Homo sapiens: one gene and its partners. The protein of the gene in region 4 purifies or fractionates together with the protein of the main gene of each other region. This does not show direct contact. Each region holds a gene or a part of one and is shown on either strand. Other genes may lie near its edges. The genes, in order: DLAT, PPFIA2, DLD, MED13L, AGAP1, ZMYM3 and ACAD11.

What was found.
Region 1: the proteins of MED13L (region 4) and DLAT purify together in Homo sapiens (affinity purification with mass spectrometry; one large-scale study listed by BioGRID and IntAct). This does not show direct contact.
Region 2: the proteins of MED13L (region 4) and PPFIA2 purify together in Homo sapiens (affinity purification with mass spectrometry; one large-scale study listed by BioGRID and IntAct). This does not show direct contact.
Region 3: the proteins of MED13L (region 4) and DLD purify together in Homo sapiens (affinity purification with mass spectrometry; one large-scale study listed by BioGRID and IntAct). This does not show direct contact.
Region 5: the proteins of MED13L (region 4) and AGAP1 purify together in Homo sapiens (affinity purification with mass spectrometry; one large-scale study listed by BioGRID and IntAct). This does not show direct contact.
Region 6: the proteins of MED13L (region 4) and ZMYM3 purify together in Homo sapiens (affinity purification with mass spectrometry; one large-scale study listed by BioGRID and IntAct). This does not show direct contact.
Region 7: the proteins of MED13L (region 4) and ACAD11 purify together in Homo sapiens (affinity purification with mass spectrometry, with the first as the bait; 2 studies listed by BioGRID). This does not show direct contact.

Annotation. Positions count from the first base shown.
Region 1 is NC_000011.10:112,059,908-112,063,407, reverse strand, and holds part of DLAT (dihydrolipoyllysine-residue acetyltransferase component of pyruvate dehydrogenase complex, mitochondrial isoform 2 precursor), read right to left. Parts: coding exon 3,343-3,500; intron 2,689-3,342; exon of another isoform or gene 2,671-2,688; coding exon of another isoform or gene 2,614-2,670; intron 2,371-2,613; coding exon 2,234-2,370; intron 1,003-2,233; coding exon 873-1,002; 3' UTR 1-872.
Region 2 is NC_000012.12:81,339,851-81,343,350, forward strand, and holds part of PPFIA2 (liprin-alpha-2), read right to left. Parts: intron 1,359-3,500; coding exon 1,228-1,358; intron 1-1,227. UniProt on the Homo sapiens protein: Alters PTPRF cellular localization and induces PTPRF clustering. May regulate the disassembly of focal adhesions.
Region 3 is NC_000007.14:107,904,683-107,908,182, forward strand, and holds part of DLD (dihydrolipoyl dehydrogenase, mitochondrial isoform 1 precursor), read left to right. Parts: intron 1-275; coding exon 276-376; intron 377-678; coding exon 679-822; intron 823-1,584; coding exon 1,585-1,686; intron 1,687-3,500. UniProt on the Homo sapiens protein: Lipoamide dehydrogenase is a component of the glycine cleavage system as well as an E3 component of three alpha-ketoacid dehydrogenase complexes (pyruvate-, alpha-ketoglutarate-, and branched-chain amino acid-dehydrogenase complex).
Region 4 is NC_000012.12:115,984,194-115,987,693, reverse strand, and holds part of MED13L (mediator of RNA polymerase II transcription subunit 13-like), read left to right. Parts: intron 1-405; coding exon 406-585; intron 586-1,204; coding exon 1,205-1,428; intron 1,429-3,321; coding exon 3,322-3,500. UniProt on the Homo sapiens protein: Component of the Mediator complex, a coactivator involved in the regulated transcription of nearly all RNA polymerase II-dependent genes.
Region 5 is NC_000002.12:236,129,668-236,132,293, forward strand, and holds the end of AGAP1 (arf-GAP with GTPase, ANK repeat and PH domain-containing protein 1), read left to right. Parts: 3' UTR 1-2,126; downstream 2,127-2,626. UniProt on the Homo sapiens protein: GTPase-activating protein for ARF1 and, to a lesser extent, ARF5. Directly and specifically regulates the adapter protein 3 (AP-3)-dependent trafficking of proteins in the endosomal-lysosomal system.
Region 6 is NC_000023.11:71,241,633-71,244,140, forward strand, and holds part of ZMYM3 (zinc finger MYM-type protein 3), read right to left. Parts: intron 2,349-2,508; coding exon 2,197-2,348; intron 1,453-2,196; coding exon 1,338-1,452; intron 793-1,337; coding exon 538-792; intron 1-537. UniProt on the Homo sapiens protein: Plays a role in the regulation of cell morphology and cytoskeletal organization.
Region 7 is NC_000003.12:132,635,810-132,639,309, forward strand, and holds part of ACAD11 (acyl-CoA dehydrogenase family member 11), read right to left. Parts: intron 1-3,500. UniProt on the Homo sapiens protein: Acyl-CoA dehydrogenase, that exhibits maximal activity towards saturated C22-CoA.

The DNA of each region.
Region 1 (3,500 bases), on a different chromosome or scaffold from region 4:
GCATTTTCCACAGTGGAGTCATAAATTCTGTTCATTATGTTCATTTACAATGAACTACCAGTTAATCTTAGAAAATTTTAGTTTCACAACTTCTGTTAAATTATATTAACAATGTTTCTTTTTTGGAGGTAACTGTTGAATTCTGTACTCAAAATTACACATTTGTTTAAATAAATATCCACACAAATTCTCAGTTACATCAAGTAGCTGGTTTATATTTAGATTATCTCAAGTAGGGGGGAATAACCATGTGTAGGAATTCATAGAAAAATAAACAATCAGCTGAAGAGGTCTAAGAAAATGCTGACTTTTAAAATTTCACTTATTTTCCTTGAAGTTTTCTACCCTTCCCATCGATGATAAACCAAGATCATGTAATGGAAAATTTCAAACCAGGGCTAAATTCTAAAGTAAAGCTTCAATTCAAGCCCTTCCCCCAAGAGAATTAATTTTTCTGATTTCTCTTTCTCTCACATCTAAGGAGAACATTTTAGGCAGTTAAATTTCAGAACTTCAAGGTTTCATCAGGGTCACCTTTATGTACTTGTCTTTAGGGAACCACAATTCTACCTATCGTACATTTCCTAGAGGAAGTACTTATCACCAAAGGGCTAGGCAAGGCCACATACATGTCCCTTAATTAGGAGTACAGAGCTAAAAATCTGGTGTCTGATTATTAAATGTGCACAATATTTGGGTGTAATCGGCATTTTAAAAATTCAGTAATGCCCATTATAAATAACTTATCTGGACAGACTCAATAATAAAAATAACTGGTTAAAATAAAAAGAACCACCTGTTTAATAACATATAAATATCTTGTTAAGAATGAATCAGTGTGACCTGGGAGAGTTTAGAAATTCTTGAGTTAGTTACAACAACATAGTGATAGGTTTTTCAAGGTACTTTCTAAACTCAGCAAGCCACTGGGCTCCAACTGCTCCATCCACCACCCGGTGATCACAACTGAGTGTAACAGACATCATGCTAGCCACATCAAACCTAGAAAAAGATAAAGACATTTTAGATATTCTGAAAGAAAATACTGCATTTCAGCCAGTAACCACCCAAATGCTCACTCCTACCCTATAATCCCAACCAGGTAATACTTCCTATCTACTCTTCCAGTCTCCTATACCTTTAGCTCAAATTTATAGCTTGAAGAAACAGACCAGATACCTGGAGTATGGGTGGGCAATGGGCCAAATCCTGTCCTCTGCCTGTTTTTATTAGGTAAAGATTTACTGCAATTCATTTGTCTTGTTTATGCCTCCCTTCATACTACAATGGCAGATTATTTGCAACAGCAGCCATATGTCCCAGAAAGCCTAAAATACTTACTATACAACTAAAAAAAAGCATGCTGACTCCTCACCTAGAATAAATAAGGCTTTCCACCTCAAATAGGACTAACTGCATTTAGTAAAGTTGCTGCCTTGAAGAATTTCGTATTTTTTATATATATATAATTTTATTTGAAGATACAATATAGCATGCCAATAACTATATATAAAACTGAGACTCTGGCCAGGCACACTGGCTCATTCCTGTAATCCCAGCACTTTGGAAGGCTGAGGTGAGCAGATCATTTGAGGTCAGGATCAAGACCAGCCTGGCCTACATGGTGAAACAACATGTCTACTAAAAATACAAAAATTAGCCAAGTGTGGTAGTACATGCCTGTAATCCCAGCTATAGCTACTTGGGAGGCTGAGGCAGGAGAATTATTTGAACCTGGGAGGCGGGGATTGCAGTGAGCCGAGATGGCACCACTGCACTTCTGCCTGGGTGACAGGGTGAGTGAGACTCCATCTCAAACAAACAAACAAAAAAAACACTGATACTCAAAAACAGGTATGGTTGACCCTCCATATATCCATGGGTTCCGAATCCATAGATTCAACCAACCATGGATCAAAATATCCAGAAAGTAAACAATTCCACAAATTTCCAGTAAGCACAACTTGAATTTGCTGCACACCGGGCACTACACTGGATCCATGTGAATGAAGTGCTGTTTAGGTATTGTATTATTATAAGTCAAGAATAAAGTATACAGAATAATGTGTGTAGGTTATATGCAAATATTACATCATATCATATCAGGGACTTGAGCATTGTGGATCACGATATTTGAGGGGGTTCCTGGAGCCAATCCCCTGAGGATACCACAGGACAAGTGTACAGTGTAATAAAAATTAGCTTACGACTTCCCCTCCATTTTGGCACTTACCCTTTTTCATTATCTGCAGGGACCAGTTTATCCTCTGAAGCACCAATTGCCAAAATACATGCTTGAGGTGGGTTAATAATAGCAGAGAAATTCTTAATTCCAAACATTCCTAAATTGGAGATCGTAAAAGTGCCACCCTAGAGGAAAAAAAATTAAAAATAAATTATAGTTTGTCAACATAAATCAGAAAACTTGACAAATGTTCTGTGAAAAGACCTTAAGCTAAAAAGGTGCAAGGTCTTAAGAAAGGCCTGAATGGAATACACATTACTGAAGATATACAACCATTACAATATGAACAAAAATGTCAGCCGGAAAATGTCTTATTTTCAAACAATATCTTCTTTTGGATATATGATTGAATTTTACTTTATTTTCAGAACGGTGTGTCAATAAGAGTTACGTGGCAGGCCAGGCACAGTGGCTCACACCTGTAATCCCAGCACTTCGAGAGGGTGAGGCGGGTGGATCATTTGAGGTCAGGAGTTTGAAACCAGCCTGGCCAACATGGTGAAACCCCGACACTACTAAAAACATACACACACACACAAAATTAGTCAGGTGCAGTGGTGCATGCCTGTAATACCAGCTACTCAGGAGGCAGAGGTAGGAGAATTGCTTGAACCTGGGAGGCGGAGGTTGCAGTGAGCCAAGATTGCACCATTGTACTCCAACCTGGGTGACAAGAGTGAGACTCTGTTTCAAAAAAGAATTACGCTGGGCGTGGTGGCTCATGCCTGTAATCCCAGCACTTTGGGAGGCTGAGGCAGGCGGATCACAAGGTCAGGAGATCAAGACCATCCTGGCCAACATGGTGAAAACCAGTCTCTACTAAAAATACAAAAAACTAGCCGGGCGTGGTGGCAGGTGCCTGTAGTCCCAGCTACTTGGGAGGCTGAGGCAGGAGAATGGCGTAACCCAGGAGGCGGAGCTTGCAGTGAGCCGAGATCATGCCACTGCACTCCAGCCTGGGTGACAGAGAGACTCCGTCTCAAAAAAAAAAAAAAAAAAAAAAATTACGTGACAGAATCAAAAGGTGAAAAATGCAATAAATGCATTATGCAAACCTTAAAAATAACATAATTAGAAAGCAATAATTAATACCCTACCTGGAATTCATGTGGCTGTAGTTTACCCTCTCTTGCTTTGGTTGCTAAAGAAACAACATCATTAGCAATGGTTTCCACTCCTTTTATATGTGCATTAAACACAATAGGTGTGATGAGTCCTGCAGGAGTACTGACCGCAACACTGACATCAACAACAT
Region 2 (3,500 bases), about 35 Mb from region 4:
GTGCAATTTGGAAGCAACAAACCATGTATCCTCGTGATCAATGTATGTGTTTTCCTAATTAGAGTACTCAAATATTATTTTAAATACATGTTAAACTGAAATGCTTTTCAAGCAGTTGGTTAAGTTTCAATTTATGGTCAATATATTTGACACCGTATTAATAGGATGGGATCAATAGACATTGTTATTAGTTTCTATAGTTGTTAATTTTATAACACCATGATAAATTACTTACTTTTACTTACTCATGTGAATTAATTTGAACTCACATTCCCTAACCTTCAAGCAATAGCTTTTTATATGTTGAAATATACTCTTTTTTGGAGAGTGAAAGAAGTAATATTTTGAAGCTGAAGTAACTGATTTTTCCACATTAACAACAAAAAATAGTTGGAAAAAAGAAATGACTGCCAACACAGAAAGCCCTACTTTTAAAAGCATTTATTGTAAAACATAATATCTAGAAGATAGATATTTTTATTGAAGCATTCATCCTTAAGTCATTATATTTGGTTATATTAATTATGTGTCTACAGATGCTGCAATTGATGAGACAATAAGAGAAGATATATTTCAGATATAAACTACATGCTTAGGTATATTCATATCATCAGTGATTATAGAGATCTGTTTGCAGTGCTTTATGCATATGGATAAGACAGTATAAAGAATTGTGATGACAAATGACATATTTCTCCATCTAGACTTATCTTTTTATTTAATATTTTAGCCAAGGATTTTTTTATTTTCTAATAACTTTCTGACTGAGGAGTTATTACTGCTGGCAGCAGCAGTACCCACAGGATGCACATACCTGTCTGCTAAAAGGCACAATCATATACTTTTCAGACTTTAATTACGCTTATACTGCAATCCAAATTTATGATCTTGTCCTACAGTCTCCTTAGTTTTTTGTTAATATTTCTAGTAAGTCCTTCCTCTAGCCTGATCTCATTGTAATAGAAAATATCCACTAAAAAATAGAAGAGTTATTCTTATCTATATTGACCAATAATAAGACCACAAAGATACAGTTAACTTTAAAAATACAAATTTGATATCAAAATTGAAATTTGGTTATTTCACAAGTGATACTGGGAAAGGGAAGCTGGAGAATTCTGGCTCAAATAATGTAAATTGTTAAGCAGTCTATTCGACAACAACGAAGGAAGAGGAATATTTTTGGAAGGAGGGCATTCAGTGTGCAGTGTGCCTGCAGAGTCTTACCTTCGAGCATCATTGTGGTAGGAAGAAGGGAGAGTGTGAGTCATTCTGAGGGCTCTAGGGGTAGGAGGAGGAGAAGTTTCACATTTAATTGTTGCTTTGTCCTCTCGACCATCTTCTTCCACAACTGCAATCTAGAAGCAAAAACAATACATTCAAATAAACCCTTTCTAAATTTCAGTTGAAATTGACACAAATGGAGAATCATGAGAACAAGGCTGTCGAGTAATTTTAATACAAAATAAAACAACAAAACTTGGGGCATTTAAGTCTTACATACATAAATTCCCATTAAAGAGTTTGATTTTCACAAATATTTAAATTGGACACATTAAAATTAAAAAAAAATCATAGACCCACTACACAAAAATGTTTGATTAATAAACACCATAGATCAAGCTTTTCCAACCCACAGCCTGCTGGAAACATATAGCCCAAGACGGCTTTGAATGCAGCCCAACACGAATTCGTAAACTGTCTTAAAACGATTTATGCACGGACCTTTTTTTTAAAGTTCATTAGCTATCATTAGTGTTAGAGTAGTTTATGTGTGGCCCAAGACAATTCTTCTTCTAATGTAGCCCAGGGAAGCCAAAAGATTAGACACTGCTGCCATAAATCAACTAGTTGCTGACTATTGATCTATAGTGTTTATTGACATTGATCTATGATATTTTATAACATCAGAATATAAACTCTTTACAAAAAGGTATTAAACACACATTTGAACAATTCACTAACATATAGCATTATACATACTCAGGCTATCATAATAAAGACATCTTTTAAGTAGGGATTTTTGAAATGAGAAGTTGATAAAATATAACTTTATCAGATAAAGTGTTTTAAATCAGTCAGCCTAATGAAATTTATTACAGGGTATTTAAAATATGAGTTGTGGTTTGTAAGAAAAAAATCTCTTTTTAAAGAGAATAATAAAAGGTAAGATAGTAATGTTTTCAAATTGTTCCATTTTACTACCATGATGGGAAAACTGGCAAAGACATACAGAAAACCAAAAGAAGATGAGATGGGAGGGATTTCCTTAAAGAACACTTTAGTACAGAATCCAGAATGACTCAGGATACTATCCATTTTGTCAGAGATGAAGATATAGAGCTGTAACTTAAAATTTTTTCCAATGTCAAGTTAATTGTAGAGACATAGTTTTTACAACAATGCTGCATATTTTTCATGGCATCGTTGTGTATCACAATATGGAGAGATCAGGATTGTAGAAAACACAGCTAAAGACTTATGGCTTTAGAGTTCTGATGAAAAAAGTTCTTAGTATGGCTAAACAAAAATTTTTAAAGTTCTAGGGAAATATTTTGTTTGTTTTTATGTAAAGCTGTTATTTATAAATGTGTTTATCTATAATAAAGACCTTGTAACTTTGAGGAACTTCATGAAATTGTCAGGACTTTTGTCACCCAATCTTAGGTTCCTTTTAACAGCTTAGGTAGGTAGGCATTTTTATATAATTCCTTTGCTCTATTCAACTAGCATATTGCCATCAGGAGAATCTTTTTTCAATAACTGCTTTCGGATTGATTCTGATGCTGTGGAAAACCTTTTTAAACCCACAACCCAGCTAAACTCTTAAGCGTGTTTCTGAACTATTCCTAATACATGTTAGTGTTTTCACAGTTCTGTGATCCCACCATGACTCTTCTCTGATTGTTTCTGCTAAGCATGGCCATTTTTGCTGTCAGAATTTTGCTTCTGAAACATCTTATAAAATACCCTCTTTGTCCTCCCTGCCAGCCAAACTATACTTATTCCCAATAACAGCTTCTAAAAACAGCATGGCACATGTATACATATGTAACTAACCGGCACATTGTGCACATGTACCCTAAAACTTAAAGTATAATAATAATAATAATAATAATAATAATAATAAATCATGTACAAAACTTTCCTCTGAATATCACTTAGAGTTTTGGAATTAGAGAGGGATTTGAATTCTGATTTTTCTTAAATGTTGAATAAATAGGCTGATTACTTACCTGCTCTAATATTACATTTCCTCATCAATAAAATGGAAGTGATACAACACTTTTCTTAATGTAGTCTTTTGAAGTGTAAATACCATCATTTATTTAACTCGTTCCCCGATACACAAGATTTTTTTGGTTGTGGTCCCTCTTTCCATGACTTTTCTCACAAATTATGTTGTTACTTCCTGAATTATTTGAGACTACATTTTCGTATAGAACCTTCCATCCTACCTTTCTATTTCTTACAGCCATTAAACTTATATAGTCTTTTTA
Region 3 (3,500 bases), on a different chromosome or scaffold from region 4:
GTTCAGAGGATATGTTATCACAGTGGGATATAATGTTTTATTTTGGACTGCCTTTTTACCCAAGGTAGACATTTTATAGTGTTTGATAGGTTCTGTTTCTGTGATACAATGATGTTGGCCTTTTGTCAACTATAATTATAAGTTATTACATTTTGAAACTTTAATACTGCCTTTTATAAGCATTAGGTTGAAATTTTCCAGTTGGTGAGTGAAAAACACTGCATATTGCTTCAAGAATTTAGCTAAGAACTAAAGATTAATTGAACAAATTACAGTGTCCGAAGTTCGCTTGAATTTAGACAAGATGATGGAGCAGAAGAGTACTGCAGTAAAAGCTTTAACAGGTGGAATTGCCCACTTATTCAAACAGAATAAGGTCAGTGTTTAATATTCAGATTTCTGCTTTACTTTGAATACAAATTAAACTTTGCATTATAGAGTGATGATATTTGAACTTGGTTACAGGGGAATATTTATTTAATTTAAAATAGCTTGCTAACCTGAAATAGATTTCCCTGACATATATCACAGATTTTTTTGCTGCACCATGGTGTAGCATTACTAAGTAAGGAAGCATTTTGTTTTAGATAAATTATTTACAGAGTAATTTTTCCTTTGAATGATTTATCAAACAAATTACTTTAAACTTTGTGAATTTATAAAGATTATTTTGTAAAGGTTGTTCATGTCAATGGATATGGAAAGATAACTGGCAAAAATCAAGTCACTGCTACGAAAGCTGATGGCGGCACTCAGGTTATTGATACAAAGAACATTCTTATAGCCACGGGTTCAGAAGTTACTCCTTTTCCTGGAATCACGGTATTTATGCTTCATAATTTACAACCATTACAACTTTTCTTTAGAAATACGTTTTATAAGTTATTTATGCTATTTGTGAACTTTGAGAGATTTCTGACTGAAATACTATATTTTGATGGTCATTCAGCTTTGGGAAGTTACCTGTCTTTATTCTGCAGTGATTCTGACCAGCTATAGAACACTTTATATTAAGATATGTTTGAATACAGTATGAAGTTAAAATTGACCATTGCGTTTGGAATATTGGTGGATAAAATTTAAAGTCAGTGTTTTTAATGGGATTTGATGAAATTAGGTATATAGATACCTCAAAACAAATAAATGACTTAGTATTTTTAGTGATTCTACTGAGATCACAGTTTATAAATACATTTATCTCTTCATATCCTTGGAGGATTGGTTCCAGGACCCCCCTTGGATACCAAAACCCACAGATGCTCAAGTGCCTTACATAAAATGACATAGTATTTGCATATAATCTGCATACTTCCTCCTGTATACTTTAAGTCATCTCTGGATTACTTATAATACCTAATACACTGTAAATGCTATGCAAGTAGTTCCTATGCTGTATTGTTTAGGGAATAATGACAAAAAAACCATGTGTACATGTTCAGTACAGATGCAACCATCAATTTTTTTCCTGAATATTTTCAATTAATGGTTGGTTAAATCTGCAAATTTGGAACCCATGGATATGGAGGGTCGACTGTACTAGGTTTTTTCAAATTATTTTGATTATATCTTTTGTTTTTCTTACAGATAGATGAAGATACAATAGTGTCATCTACAGGTGCTTTATCTTTAAAAAAAGTTCCAGAAAAGATGGTTGTTATTGGTGCAGGAGTAATAGGTGTAGAATTGGTAAGTGTTGTCTTTCTGCCTCTTATTACCTCCTTGGAGTTGGAAGGGACTTAAAGGTCCCCTTTTTGATTTTTTGTATAACATTACAGGCTGATCAGCATTGAGTTTTGCTTAAACACTTCTAGTAATAAAGAGTTTACTTTTGTTTTTTTCAAGACAACCTATTTATGTATTTACTCATTTAGAATGTTCTCCTTTATTTTAGTCTGTTTCCTTGTACCTTCCACCCTTCCATTTCCTAGAACTGGTCGAATTCTTTTTTAATATGACAGCCATTCAGATATTTGAGGACAGCTTTTATCCTGGGCAAATTGCATTCCAAATAAAGATTATTCTCTTTACCATCACATACATGATTTGGCTCTTCCCTTCTCTATCCTCATCTTGATGCCTCTTAACTTAGGTTTTAGAAATGTCAAACTACTTGCATTTCTTTGAACACCATGTTATTTTAGACCTTCTGTCTGCCTTGTTCTCCCTTCTTGTCCATCTGGCAGCTTTCCACACATTTCCAATGACCTCCCTCCATTTTAGAGTCACTGTGCCTTGTAAACACCAGGAATTGCTCTACTTCTGAAATAATAAATTCAGATATTTTATTATGTAACCATGACCTCCTTTCCTCTTTTACTCAGTTATTCATAGTGTACTTTGTACCCTTTTTTAGGTTTTCTAGTCCATAGATCTACTTTTTTGCAATCTTCCCTTTCCAATCTTGACTGCGTTCCTGATCAGCTTAGATGCCATAGTCCATCACTTTAACCACACTCTTACAGATGTCCTTGAGTTGCTTGTCTCACTGTTCTGTCATATCTGCTTGGCAAAACTCTAGTTCGGTTTGAATGCAGCAGTCTGCCTTTTTTATGCTATTTCCAGGCTGTTGACTACACCTGGAGAAAAACACACCCTACTCATTGGTACTTGTATTAATTCTTGGCACAAACCTTAACAAGAACCTCAGCCTTGCTGACAGTTTATTATTTCCTAAGATGGTACACTGCCCTGGTCTCTGCAATGGCCATTTTCATTTTCTACTCTTCTCAAATCTCTGCTTGTATACTGTCTGCTCTGCCTGTGGATGACCTTGTCTTTTAAATATTACATAAAAGAGAAATCAGATGAGAACTCCCTCAAGTTGATGTCCTAAATTTGATAATGCTTTTACCTGTTGTTACACCTATCCTTTTGATTACCTCTCCTATTACTGTGGAAATGCCATTTTCCCTAAGACTAATCCCTTTACTTGTGCTTGGTAGCACATCATCTGCCTTTTCAGAGACTTGGTTTTGTGATTTTTATTCTTGTATTTTTCAGTCTTCAAACTCCTTCCTTTTATTTACAATTTCATGTGCTTCTATGTGTGTACCTGTGATGCATTTGCACTCATTAACACAGGTTTGTGTGCACATAAATGCTCCTTATCTTGGTCCCATGTCCTTCTTGAGTTACCAATTTTGTTCGCACTTTTCCTTCAAAACCCAGCTTCTCAAAAGAGTTGTCCATGCTTTATTTCATCAACTTCCACTCACTCAGTCTATGGCTTGTGCCAATAAATTGCTCTTAGGGCATGAATCTATTTATTGCTCAATCTGTTGGACTAATTTCTTCACTGCTTTATTTGGCAGTAATTAGCATTGCTGATTTTCTTGCCTTTGAAACACTTTGCCTAACTTCTGTGATTTCATATTCTTCCATTTTTACATCTGCTCTTTGGGCTGAATTCTCCATATTATGCAAGTTCCCCTTTCTTAGGCTTCCCTTTAATTGTTAGTATTTTTGTTTTTCTTTTTTTTTTTTTTTGAGTCCGAGTCTTG
Region 4 (3,500 bases):
CATTTTTTCCTACTTATCATATAAACAAAACATTGATATTTGCAAATAAAAGTAATAATTAAGAAACTTTTGCAGCTGTCTTATGAAAATCCTTGGAAACAGATTTCCATGGTTTTAAAAAGTCGCACCTATCCATTTTTCCACTTTTAAACAATTCTTCCATTAAACTTTTTTATATAGAGTAATCCATTTCCCCTTTTATTATTGTTGATACTAAATTATCAATTATTTTCTCTAATTTAGTAGAAGAATATCTTTCCTCCTGACTCCTAAGTCAAATATTTTAGAATCTACTACAGCTAATAACGTCATTGTTCTGAATATAACTGAGGCTCGAGGTGATGGTGAGGAAGAGGAGGGTGCTAGCCCCCTTATCTTCTCTGTTTCTTCTCACTTCTCTTCCAGTGCTGGACATCAGCATGCTCTCCTCCCAGGATGTGGTTCGTATGCTGTTGTCCCTGCAGCCCTTTCTCCAAGATGCCATCCAAAAGAAGCGCACGGGCAGGACCTGGGAGAACATCCAGCATGTGCAGGGACCACTCACTTGGCAGCAGTTCCATAAAATGGCAGGACGGGGAACCTACGGTAGGGTCTTTGTCCTGTTTAAAATTCCTTCTGACTTCAGTGCTGTTCAGTGAAGAGCAGCGTTAGTTACTGTCAAGTCCTTGCGTCACTAACAAAATAGGGGAGTCTTTTTCTTTGACCATTTAGTTTTATAATCTCTTTGTTTTCCTAAAGTTACTTTTGGAGTCAAGTTTCCTACCACCCTTGGCATAATCCAGGTCAGTGAGGAAGCTAATCCCTAAAAAGTGCATTTTTTAGATTCTCCTCATTTTCCCAATCCTCACTGCATTTTCATCTGGATGGACTTCTGGGCCAGTTCTGTCTACTTCATCATAGTCAGAATCATAATGCTTATCTTGAAGGAAATGATGTAGTGCTGCTTGGAAAGTTAATTTTAACTTGTTCTAGTCTGCCCTCTGATCTTACTGAACCTTTATAAACAAATTCTGACTTACTTAATTAAGAGTCCTCATCAGTGACCATTTAATTAGATGATTTCAAAAATACTTTTAAGAATGTCTTGTGAACATGGAGTGACATTTCAGATGCCAGAATTAAGACCAGTGCACCAGGAATTTCAAAATTGTAAGGTTGTGGGAAAAACTCTCTAGCACCTTTCTACACTACAATGTCATTTTAGGTTCGGAAGAATCTCCTGAGCCGTTGCCCATCCCCACTCTGCTGGTAGGCTATGACAAGGATTTCCTCACCATCTCGCCATTCTCCTTGCCGTTTTGGGAGAGGCTCTTGTTGGACCCATATGGGGGCCACCGTGATGTTGCCTATATTGTGGTGTGTCCAGAAAATGAGGCCTTGCTCGAAGGAGCCAAAACTTTCTTCAGGGACTTGAGTGCTGTATACGAGGTGAGGAAGTTACTGTGAAAATTGCTTTTTATGACTTGGATCCTCTGATTGTTTATAGTGATGACTAAATTTCAAGACAAATGTCTTGAAAGTAAATCTCAGAGAAAATTTGCAAACAGGTGGATGAAGAAGAGAATTGAATTGGCCAATTTTTCTGGAAGCAAATTGCTTTCCCATCTTTGCTTTATATTTGTTAGATTTAGAAAACGTTCCCCTCCCATTCTTACCACACGTCTTAAAATCCCATCAGTTCTCTCTTCTCCATTTATGTGCTAAAAGTTGAAGAATATTGCTCACCAGGGGAAAGTGTGGCTATGTAGAAGATGAGCTTTACCAAAAGAGCACATCTACTCTTTGTATTTATTTACTGGATGGATTGAGGGACAGGGTGAGTAGGTGAGAGTTCCTGACAACAGTGTAAAAATGTGTCTTTTGCAAATTTCTGAATTGAAACATAAGTTTAATGAATAATGTCCCTGTTGTGTTTTAACATGACATCTTAATACTGAAACTTTGATACTGATTAAAAATATAATTCCTATAATAATGTAAAAACCAGGCAGATAATTTTACATCTTTAGTATATGAATTCCTGTTGCTTTAAAAAAAATAGAATCATGTCTGTCTTTGAAGAATAAGTGCCACATTTCTTATGCCAAAGTATATATGCACTAAGTTCTTTGTATCTGATACATCTAATGTCTTTGTATTCAGCAAAATGAAATTAATATCTGTAAAATATTTAGTACTATGATAGGCATGTAAACATTATGAAAGTGGTTTTTAAATAAGATTCCAAGCTGAATTGCAAAATATTCCAAAACAGGACATTCATGATCTATAAATGTATGAGTAGGCACGGAATAGTAAATTTACGTTGTTGCTACAAAGAAATGAGGAGATGCTAACATGATGTAATGACATCAATTAAGTCACTGCCTTGGATACATTCATTTCTGAACAGTGTCTGGTCAGGGCATATATAATACTATTAAATCATAATTAACAGAAAATTTGTGTAAGCAGTTTTAAAGCCCAGCCATTTCCTTGAATGGAACCTTCAACATAAGTTACAAAATGTAAAAAGCACTGCCAGATCTTTTTAAGAGGGTACAGACAGACACTCTTTTAAATTTTTCTTAATGACTTCACTAGGGTTGCTTATTCGGCAGTAATTGATACCTCCTTAGGAAGAGTATACACTAGAGGATTTTGTCGGGGCTTAGTAAGCCTTCACTTCATCTACTCTAGTAAGGGATAATAATACGGGCTCTCCTGCTGGTGAACAGGTAGTTTACTTTTTGCAGGTTTATTATATTCCCTGCCATAAGCACCCATTTAGCGTCATGGAGATTAATAGCAGAATCTCCTTGTCCTATTTACTTTAAAAAAAAAAAAGGCGATCAGCATACTCACTGCTTCAGTGGCCCCTGCTATTGGTGATCTCCAAATGTCTGTAACAGAACAGATGGCCCATAAAATTTTAATGTTATCTTATGGGAAAATATTATGAGTAGGGATTACTTAGGAGATTTTAGTGGGCATATGTCTCAGTTAGCAACAGTAGGCAGGAATCTGCTAATTCTTTGTCCGTTAGCAATCAGGTAGTGTTCAGCAGCCTCCTCTTGTACAGGAGGAATTGGCTTGAGTGAAGAAACATTTTTTTTTTTAGAGAGCCTAGTCCAAGTTTTAGAGAGACAGATAGCAATTTAAGGGTACATTACAATTACCTGAAAGGACCAACTTGTAATGTTGGTTTGATTGCATGTGATAACCCTAAAAGAAAAAGGAAAATGCTTCCATATGTATGTTAAAGAATCTCCCTTGCTAACCATTGGTACTGAATGAAGGAATGGCTCCTGTTATAACTAATGATCTTGTCTATGATATCAGATGTGTAGGCTTGGGCAGCACAAGCCCATCTGCAAAGTGCTACGTGACGGGATCATGCGCGTGGGAAAAACTGTGGCACAGAAGCTGACAGATGAGCTTGTGAGTGAGTGGTTTAACCAGCCTTGGAGCGGCGAGGAGAATGACAATCATTCCAGACTCAAACTTTATGCGCAAGTTTG
Region 5 (2,626 bases), on a different chromosome or scaffold from region 4:
AAGAAATACTGCCCTTAAATAGACTGTTGAAATATTAATGGCCCCCCCATTTAATCAGTGTGTCTGCGGCTTTCTTCGCGTCACATGTCCGCATTGGCAGGTGATTCTGGAAAGGGATTCTGGGAAACCAACAAGTCTTTTTTAAATCTTTGAGTTGTATGAGAAAGTATTTAAGTTCACCAGTGTAGTAAACACCCACCCCAGAGCAGCGGTAAGCAAACCTAAATCTGAAAACCCATTCTTACTGTCTTTCACCATGAGATGCTGGTTTTGGTGTAAAATGACAGCACTTGGTTTGGGGTTTTGCACCTGTTGGGTAGAACTGTTCTTGTCTGAGGTCCTCACCCTCTACAGATGGGCCTCAGGGCCTGGAGGTGGGCAGATGGGGCCAGAGTGGCCAGCAGAGACTTGCATGGGCTCTGAAAGCCCCAGAGCTCAGGCCTAAGGCTGCTAGGTGAGACCAGCAGGCAGCTGTGGCATCCGACCTTGGGACGCCCAAGCTGGGCAGCCGCTCCATGTGCCCCAAACAGGATATCCTCATGAATGTGAGGAGAGGCTGGCTCAGGGCTTGGTTTTCATTTTGGCCTGGCACAGGGTACCTGTAGGGAGCACTCCCCCAACCTGAGGATGGTGAAACCATATGATAGAGACTCCTTGTCGAAGTCCACATCGGACTGATCTAGAATGCCCCGTGGGGGGATTGCATGGCCTTTGCCTTGAGATGCAGGTGAAAGAAAGGAACCAAACAAGGCATGAGTGTGTTGGGGAATCTTCCCAGTGGAGCAAACCCCCTTAACACACCAGCTGTTGGGAACAGCTGCCCCTAAATCCAATTAAACCCTCATCTCCCTGGTGCTGAACAGTCTACACTGGCCCAGGAAGCTAACGTCTGAGCCGCTTGGAGAGCTTTGGTAAACAGAAGACACTGGAAGCCCACTCGGTCAGCAGCTGGGCATGAGGATGTCAGGGGCCTTTGGACTTGAGGAAGGACAGTCCAGGTGCATGGAATCCTAATGGGCCTCATGCAGACACTGGAAGCAGCCCAGCCCCCTGCCCAATACCACAGCCCTGGGGTGTCCCCTGACATTCCTGGAGGTCCCTGGGCAAATGCATTTCCTGCCTGGGTTCTCAGGGTAGGAGAACAGAGAAGGCTCCAAGGGTGTTGGGAGTGAGCCAGGGGCTGGTCTGGGGAGTGGGTCTCACGCACTGCTCAGGTTGGCACGAGGGACCTCCCCCATCCCAACCCAGCCCCAAGGGTCCCAGCAGGGCTCTCAGCATGGCTGTTTTGAGGGTACACAGGTGGCTGGAGAGGGGTGGGGCAGTTGCATGGTGGGTGGCAAAGTGTGCATTTAGAAGCTGCTTCGTGGCGTTAAGAACGGGGGGAGAGGGACCAGCACTGTAACGTTAGAAATAATTCCTTCTTGCAGACTTGAAAAGCATCAGTTTCCCTCCCACGGCTGGGTTTTTGTGTCTGAAATACATCTAATTCTCCAGACTGCAGCCCCTCTCAGCCCCGAGCACCTGAGCGCTGGGGAGGCCCTTATTGAGCTCAGCCTGGAGAGGGGAGGGTCGCACGGGTCCCGGGGGCAGGTCTCCTGCACTGGCTCTTCCCTTCTGCCAGCTTGGAATTTGGTTCTCATCTTGCCACAGGGGTGCGTTTCCTAAAGGGCAGCCGGAGCAGCTCAAAGGTGACAACTGAGATGCATTTCTAGGCAGGGGCAGGGAAGGCCAACCCACCTTGCAGCCAGTTTTCTGTTTCTGTAAATAGCAGTGTATAGAGATGGAAGGGCAGCGTGGGTGTATCCACAGATGGGTTTAGGTTTTTTTTTTGGATGTTTTCTATTACCTCATTCAGCAACTTTATGTTTCACAATGACTCAATGATGCTTTATTTATATTGTTTGTACTGTAATTAAAACCATTGACAGACATTTCACTTTGCTTGTTATTTCATATGATCTTGTTTTGATTAAATATGCCAGTTTGTATTTTCCTGCCTTGGGATTTTTTTGTGTCCGCTGTACAGTATTCTAAGGGAAAAAGAAAAAGAAAGATGTGTAAAGTAACAGAGAGAGGTGGCTATGGTGTAGAGACCTCTTTCTAATAAAGAAATGAAAATATGTCTACACCGCTTCCGTGGAGTTGTTGTTTTTTGTTTTTTGTTTTTTTTTTTTTTGGTGGCGTTGGTCATTTGTCACAACTAATTGTGTTTCTAAGCCCAGGAAAGGTAAATCAGAGAGAAAAGGGGCTCTGTCTGCTGCGGGCAGGGATTGCCCCAGGCCCAGGCTGCCCCAGGCCCGAGGGACTCAGCACACGAGTTCACAGACGGAATGAAGAAAGAGACCAGGAGTGTCTCTTCTGACTTCTTCCTTTACAAGGACAGAAACTCCAAGAGAATGTTCTTTGCCCAGCCAGGGTTGACTGGGCCCAGAACTTCCAGATGCTTCTGTATCTTTGCACTGTGCCACACTGCCCCAGGTGTGTCGTAAGAACTATTCCCAGCAGGTGGCTAGCAGTAGAACCATCCCAGGACTCTATTATTAAGACCGTTATTATCATTAATATTACTGTAATTTTTGCCTACAAACTACATTATATCTTCCCCTCCAAAAAAAAAAAATGAGAA
Region 6 (2,508 bases), on a different chromosome or scaffold from region 4:
ATAAAACAGACCCTACTGCAAGGGTGGGCTTGCCTTCTGGGATAGAGAAACAGCAATGACCCCAACCCCTTGTGCATTAGTCCAGGTAGAAGCATGGGTCCAGAGAAAGGACCTTGGAAACTTCACTCAGACAGGACAGAAGTCCAGGGACAGAAAAAATGGAAACCAAGGTGCAGTTGTTGTTAGACCCGATAGCAAAGAATCACAGAAAGCCTGTCATTCTACCCTCCCCGACAGCCAAACACACCCAATGGTTTCCTACCTGTCCACCACCCAGAAAAAGCAGGCAAGCAAGTAAACTGTCTTAAATGAGGAAAGAGGGGAAACAGGCCAGAGGGTGACCTCTTATTTATGCAACAGCTACTGCCTATCAGGTAGGAGGACTGGCTGTTTCTACCCTTTCTGCACACAGGAACAGGAGAGGGAAGCTAGGCGCCAAGGAGAGGGCCGACCTGGCAGGTATGGTGGGTTATGGCAGGGCATGGAAGGGGAAGGCAGAGAAGGGGCAAAAGCACAGGGGAGGGGGCAGCCTCGTACCTCGCCCTTTCCTCTGGCGGACTGGGGCATAGTAGCGGATGCTCACCACCTTGGTGGTGCCCCGAGGGGTGGTACACTTGCGGGACTGCCGCACCACATTGGTGAAGGAGAGTTGCATGTGTTCCTCAGCTGTCTGCAGCCCAAAAAACTTAGTGTTGAAGAACATGAGGGTGTTGAGGAGGACAAAGGGCGAGTAGACCCCCAGTTGCTTACACTCCCAGAGGTGCTCCTCCTCCACTCGAGAGAACACCGTATCTACAATGGTCAAGGGGGAGAGGCCAGTCAGGAGGGAGTGGCTACCCAAACCCAACCACTTCCCATCCCATGTGCCCTGCTCATTTCCCACACAATTCTCATTTGGTGAGTAACCTTTGTATATAAAACACTGTCACTTCGCTACACTTGCTACACTACACAGTGGGACTGGGCTTTAAAAAATATATACTTTCCACACCTGCATTTGGAACGCCTCTCACCACCCTCAAGTTGTAGACAAGTAAATGTAAACCTTGAGGAGTCCCACGATTTCTTGCTTTCTTTCTTTACTTACCACCCAAACCCAGGCCATCTTTTTCTGGTCCTAGAGATAGCTCTTCAGACCTAAGTCTTGATCCCCATCTCACGTTCAAGAACAGGCGCTCCTGTGCTCCTTTAACTCTAAACCCTGAGGCATCCAGCTACACGCTCCTGCCCTCGGGCCCTTTGTGAAGAGTGGCAGACCAAACAGCACAGGACTCTCGGGATGGTGGATTGGAAGAATGGAGAAAGCGGGTAGGGGTTGCTACGTCCCTGTTCCTTACTGTTGGGGAGGAGTGTGGGCTGCCAGGTACTCAGAGACTTGTTGAGTTCTTGAACAAAAGTCAGGTAGTAAAGGTCCGTGAAAATGTTCACCATCCGGTTATTTTCCAGCAAGTACTGGGGAAAGAAAAACAGACACACCTAAGGCTAGACTGTAGGTCCTAGAAGAAAGATAATGATGCTGAAGCCCCCAGGTATGGTGTCCTTGATCATTAGGAGACGATGGGAAACAGTTGCTTGATTAGGTGGCCTCGAGTGCTTTCCCCCAGGTATACCCACAGCTCTGCGCTACTCAGGCTTTGCTCGAAGAGGAGGAGGCTTGGAGGAGATGTTCTTTAGAAGCCCACACCTCCTTCTCAGGTAATACATGGTTGACTTCTCCCAGGGGGAACTAAACATTACCCCAGCACTCAAGGATCCCAGCTCCACCCATCCCTCCCCTCCTAGAATGGGCTTAAAGATTACAAAGGGGACCTGGATAGCAATGAAGACTGCTCCTTGGCCAACGGTCCTGGAATGCAGTTTTGATTTTAGAAGAGTATTGATATCTCATGTTCTATTTGGAGTAGGAGATTAAAGGCAAGCTGCCTGCTTCAGGTAGGGGACAAGATGAGGAACAGGGAGTGCAACAGAATAACTGCTTTTTTTTTTCATTAAAAAAATATTTTTTGGGTAGATGGGTATCACTTTGTTGCCCAGGCTGGTCTCAAACTCCTGGCTTGAAGCGATCCTCCTGCCTCAGCCTCCCAAAGTGTTGGGATTACAGGCGTGAGCCACCGTGCCTAACCCAGAATCATTTCTGTTTAGACCCTGCCTGCTGTGTTAAGAGTGACAGGAAGTGAGGTGGTGCACAAGAGGTACCTGCTGGATGCCAAGACACAAATAGTAGATACTGTCAGGTTCATATCGTTCACCATTGGGCCGAGTGATTTCTCTCACAAACTGGGCCAGACCGTAGTTGAGCTCAGCAGCTGAGCAGGCGAGAATATCCTCTTTGATACGCATGGGTTTGGCTGCAGTGATATGTTGTGCAGGGACAGGATTAAGAAAAACTCTACATGGAGAATTTCACTTAGCTCCATCACCATTAACCCCTCCATCCCTTAGTCATGCCTAGCTCCTGAACAATTACAGAAAGAGCCCCTAACCTGGAACCTAGACAGCATTTCCCTT
Region 7 (3,500 bases), on a different chromosome or scaffold from region 4:
CTTTCTCTATGACTTTATAAGAGCTTTTATTGTGGTTATATTATACTATAAATTTATAATATTATAAGTATTATAAATTACTATACTAGCTAGATTTGTGAAACTACTGAAGAGGATGGATGCATTTTTCTCTTACATCATTCTATTTGTTATCTATGCTTTTAACATCCAAAGTAAAGATGAGGCACTTACTTATGCTATAAATGATTACTTTTCTTTTTTAATACAATTGGGAAACTTCTCTGGAGTTACTTTTCAGAATATCTGAACCATTTTTGGGGTAAAAACACAAAGCTATAAAACAACAGCCAGTGAGAAAAGCTGATGGCTCATCAAATTGCATAAATTAGTGCAAATTAATTAGCAATAGCTAATTAGAGTCCTGTTGATGCCTGTTTGTGTTGAGAGTTATTAAAAGCTCAACATAACTTTTAGTGGTTGATCTGGACATTTACTAGTTCGTCTTACTGCTGCTAGGGAACTTATTAGTAAAATTATTTTTGATAGTTTTTCTGAAACCTCAGCTCAACAGAAAGCTTTTAGTTTTTTAAATTATCTTCTTTATAAAGAGATTCATTTTATGTATACTTTTTACACCATTGAATTTTATTAATATGTATGTGTATTGGCATTCGAAACAAACAAAAAATACATACAATCCAACAGAACAAACAGTAGATGAAGAAGGCAGGGAAGAAAATAATAGAATTTGTAATGAAAAGATGAAGCTAGGAGTAAGGTTATTACACATAATTGAATGTGATAGGACATGCATAGTTGTTAGTGTGGGTAGTAAAATTTGCTTTGAATTTTATAGCGGGTAAAATAAAGTGTGAAGCATGGTCAGTCACAATCTTTATAGTGTATGCAGGTCAAAAACAAACCAGCTGCTCAAGAGGGACAAATTTTCTTGGCAATGAGGCTAAAGAAAAATATCACCCATCAATCTGCATACAGGTGATATTGTGTAGCGGACGAAAATGTCTTCAACAATATAAAGAGAACTTTGAGGGGCATGGTGTAATTCCTAGAAAGCAGGCTATGCTGGAAAATGACTGAAAGGACAAAGATGAGTTAGGTAGAAGACAAGACCACATGCTGAGAGTGGGAACCGAGATGGGACAAGAAATGTGAGAGTTTGAGAAGAAGGGAAAAGATTTAGAAAAGCCATTTTTTAAATGTCACAGGTTTTACTAAGAGATGAAGTTACAGCCTAGATAAAATCATGTGGCATAAAAATGTCCCAGATCCAATTAACCTTACTTCACGACTTTATTCTGCAGCAAAAATATGAGGATTCAAGTTTAGGGCTAGAAACTGGTTAAAGTCAAGGGGTGATGGACATCCCCTGTAGGGTTATTAGAAAAAATAAAAAGTAAAATAATAATAATAATGATGATATAAAGTCAGGGTGGGAAGATTCTAGAATAATAAGTAACCTAAGGTCAGGACACTTTATAATTCTTACATTACTTGCATACATCTATAGTCAAAAAATTATTAATGAAATTGATACTAAAGGTAGTTTTTGAGATGACTGATTATGACCATGTGGCTTATGTAGGATAAGAAGTCAAGTGAAGTCATGAAGGGCTTATGGATTCTAAATTAACAGCAATCAAATTTGCAGTGTCTCAGGGAAGATGCAGAGAAATAAAAGAACAGAAGGTAAAGAGGGTGAGGTCAAAAATAAGGGGTTTCAATTTCTAGATCACTGAAGTTGACAAGTTCCAATGGATGTTTCTAATTAAATATATTTTTCAAGTTGAAATGACAATATGCAGATTTTACATTAAACTCCAAGATCTTAAACATTTCTCTACTGGTAAAATTTATATTTGGAAAATCAACATTTTCCAGGAAAACTGGATTTCTTTTCAACATTGCAGTGAGCCTATTGTGCTACTGAAATACTTGCCCAAACATGCTTTAAATACTTTGTAAATAAGTAACAGAAAATAATTTCGTTTTGCCATATCCTGTAGTTTCCTTTACTGGCTTACTCCACACATTCCTGGAAGGTTTGTCATTTAAAATTGTTTATTCTTCTTTCTTAATTGTTGTGTTTTCTGATGACAAAAATTAAACATGCTGTTGTTTTAAAAATAAAAACCAAAAAACATCAAACCCTAAACATTACAGAAATGTACAATTATGTCTCCTATAATTCTATCCCCTACAACCACTGTTTAGGTTTTCGTACATATTATGAAGCATTTACTTATACCCTAATATTTTTCTGAAGAAGCTTGACAAGTAGTCTAAGAAAAGTCAGAGAGAAAAATGAAGGGGAAAAAATGGAAAAATGAGGGTACCTGAAATAAACTGAGCATCATTGATGTGCCAGGTACCAGCTAGTTGCTCCACATTGACTGTTTCATTTTAGCTGCCCAGCAACTCAGAATTTTTTTTTTCAATTTTAAAAGGTACACAATGTCAATTTCCTGGCTTTGATAATGTACCATAGTTGTATAATATCCATTTTGCAGAATTTGGATGATGGATACACAGGACTTCTCTGTACTATAACACTGTTACAACTTTTTTGGGGACTCTAATTATTTCAAAACAAAAAGTTAAAATAAAAATAGAGGCACAGAGAGAGATTGAATAACATGCTTTAAGTTCACACTGCTAGGGAATGAAAGTTAAGCATAAATTTATGAGATGGAAATAGTTGCTAGTGAATAATTAACTAAAATTAATCCCTTCAACATAGATTCATCAGAATCATATAAGCACCTGCAATATAAAGATGAATAAGATACAGTCATTGTTTTAAAGGAACTCCAAGTCTAGTGGGTTCTAATTTGTTATCTACTATAGAGACTCAATATTATGTAGACTCGACTAAAATATTAATTAAATGACACAGATCAAATACAGGCCAGATCCTGCTATGTTTTCAGGCATATGCTTTTATAATTATCTAGATTATAAATTAGCATATTTAATTTTTCTAATCTCAGGGTAGATAATTAACAAGGTTAGAATTCAGAATTCATCAGTGCCACTAGCTCTTCCTGCCCTAAAACATCTTAGCATTCTAAGAAACTAATGAACCCAGAAAATCCTCCTCTCAGAAGCAGGATTCATTCCTACTATACTGTAATCCTAGGCCTCATTGTAGGTGCTCAGTGGAGGATTACAGCTTTCATTTGTTTATACTCTTTATAAAGAATACAGTATGCACATTTACATTGAGCAAGGTTATATTAATCTCATGTAATTCTTTTGAAGCCTCAAGAAGCTTTTGGAATTCTCTATTCTCAGAGTTTATAATAAACAAATAATAAATTCTTCATGAGATAGGGCTAAAAACCCCAAAGAAGTATAAATGAACCAGAAAAAACAGCAAGAACATGGATAAGCTAAATATTGTAACTAGTAGATGAAAACTTATTTGAAGAAAACAGCATCATGCATGTAAAATTCCCAAATCCTTTTAAGCAGTAAACCAGATACCACTTGGGATTAGAACCAGTCTCAAAGGTAGGCAG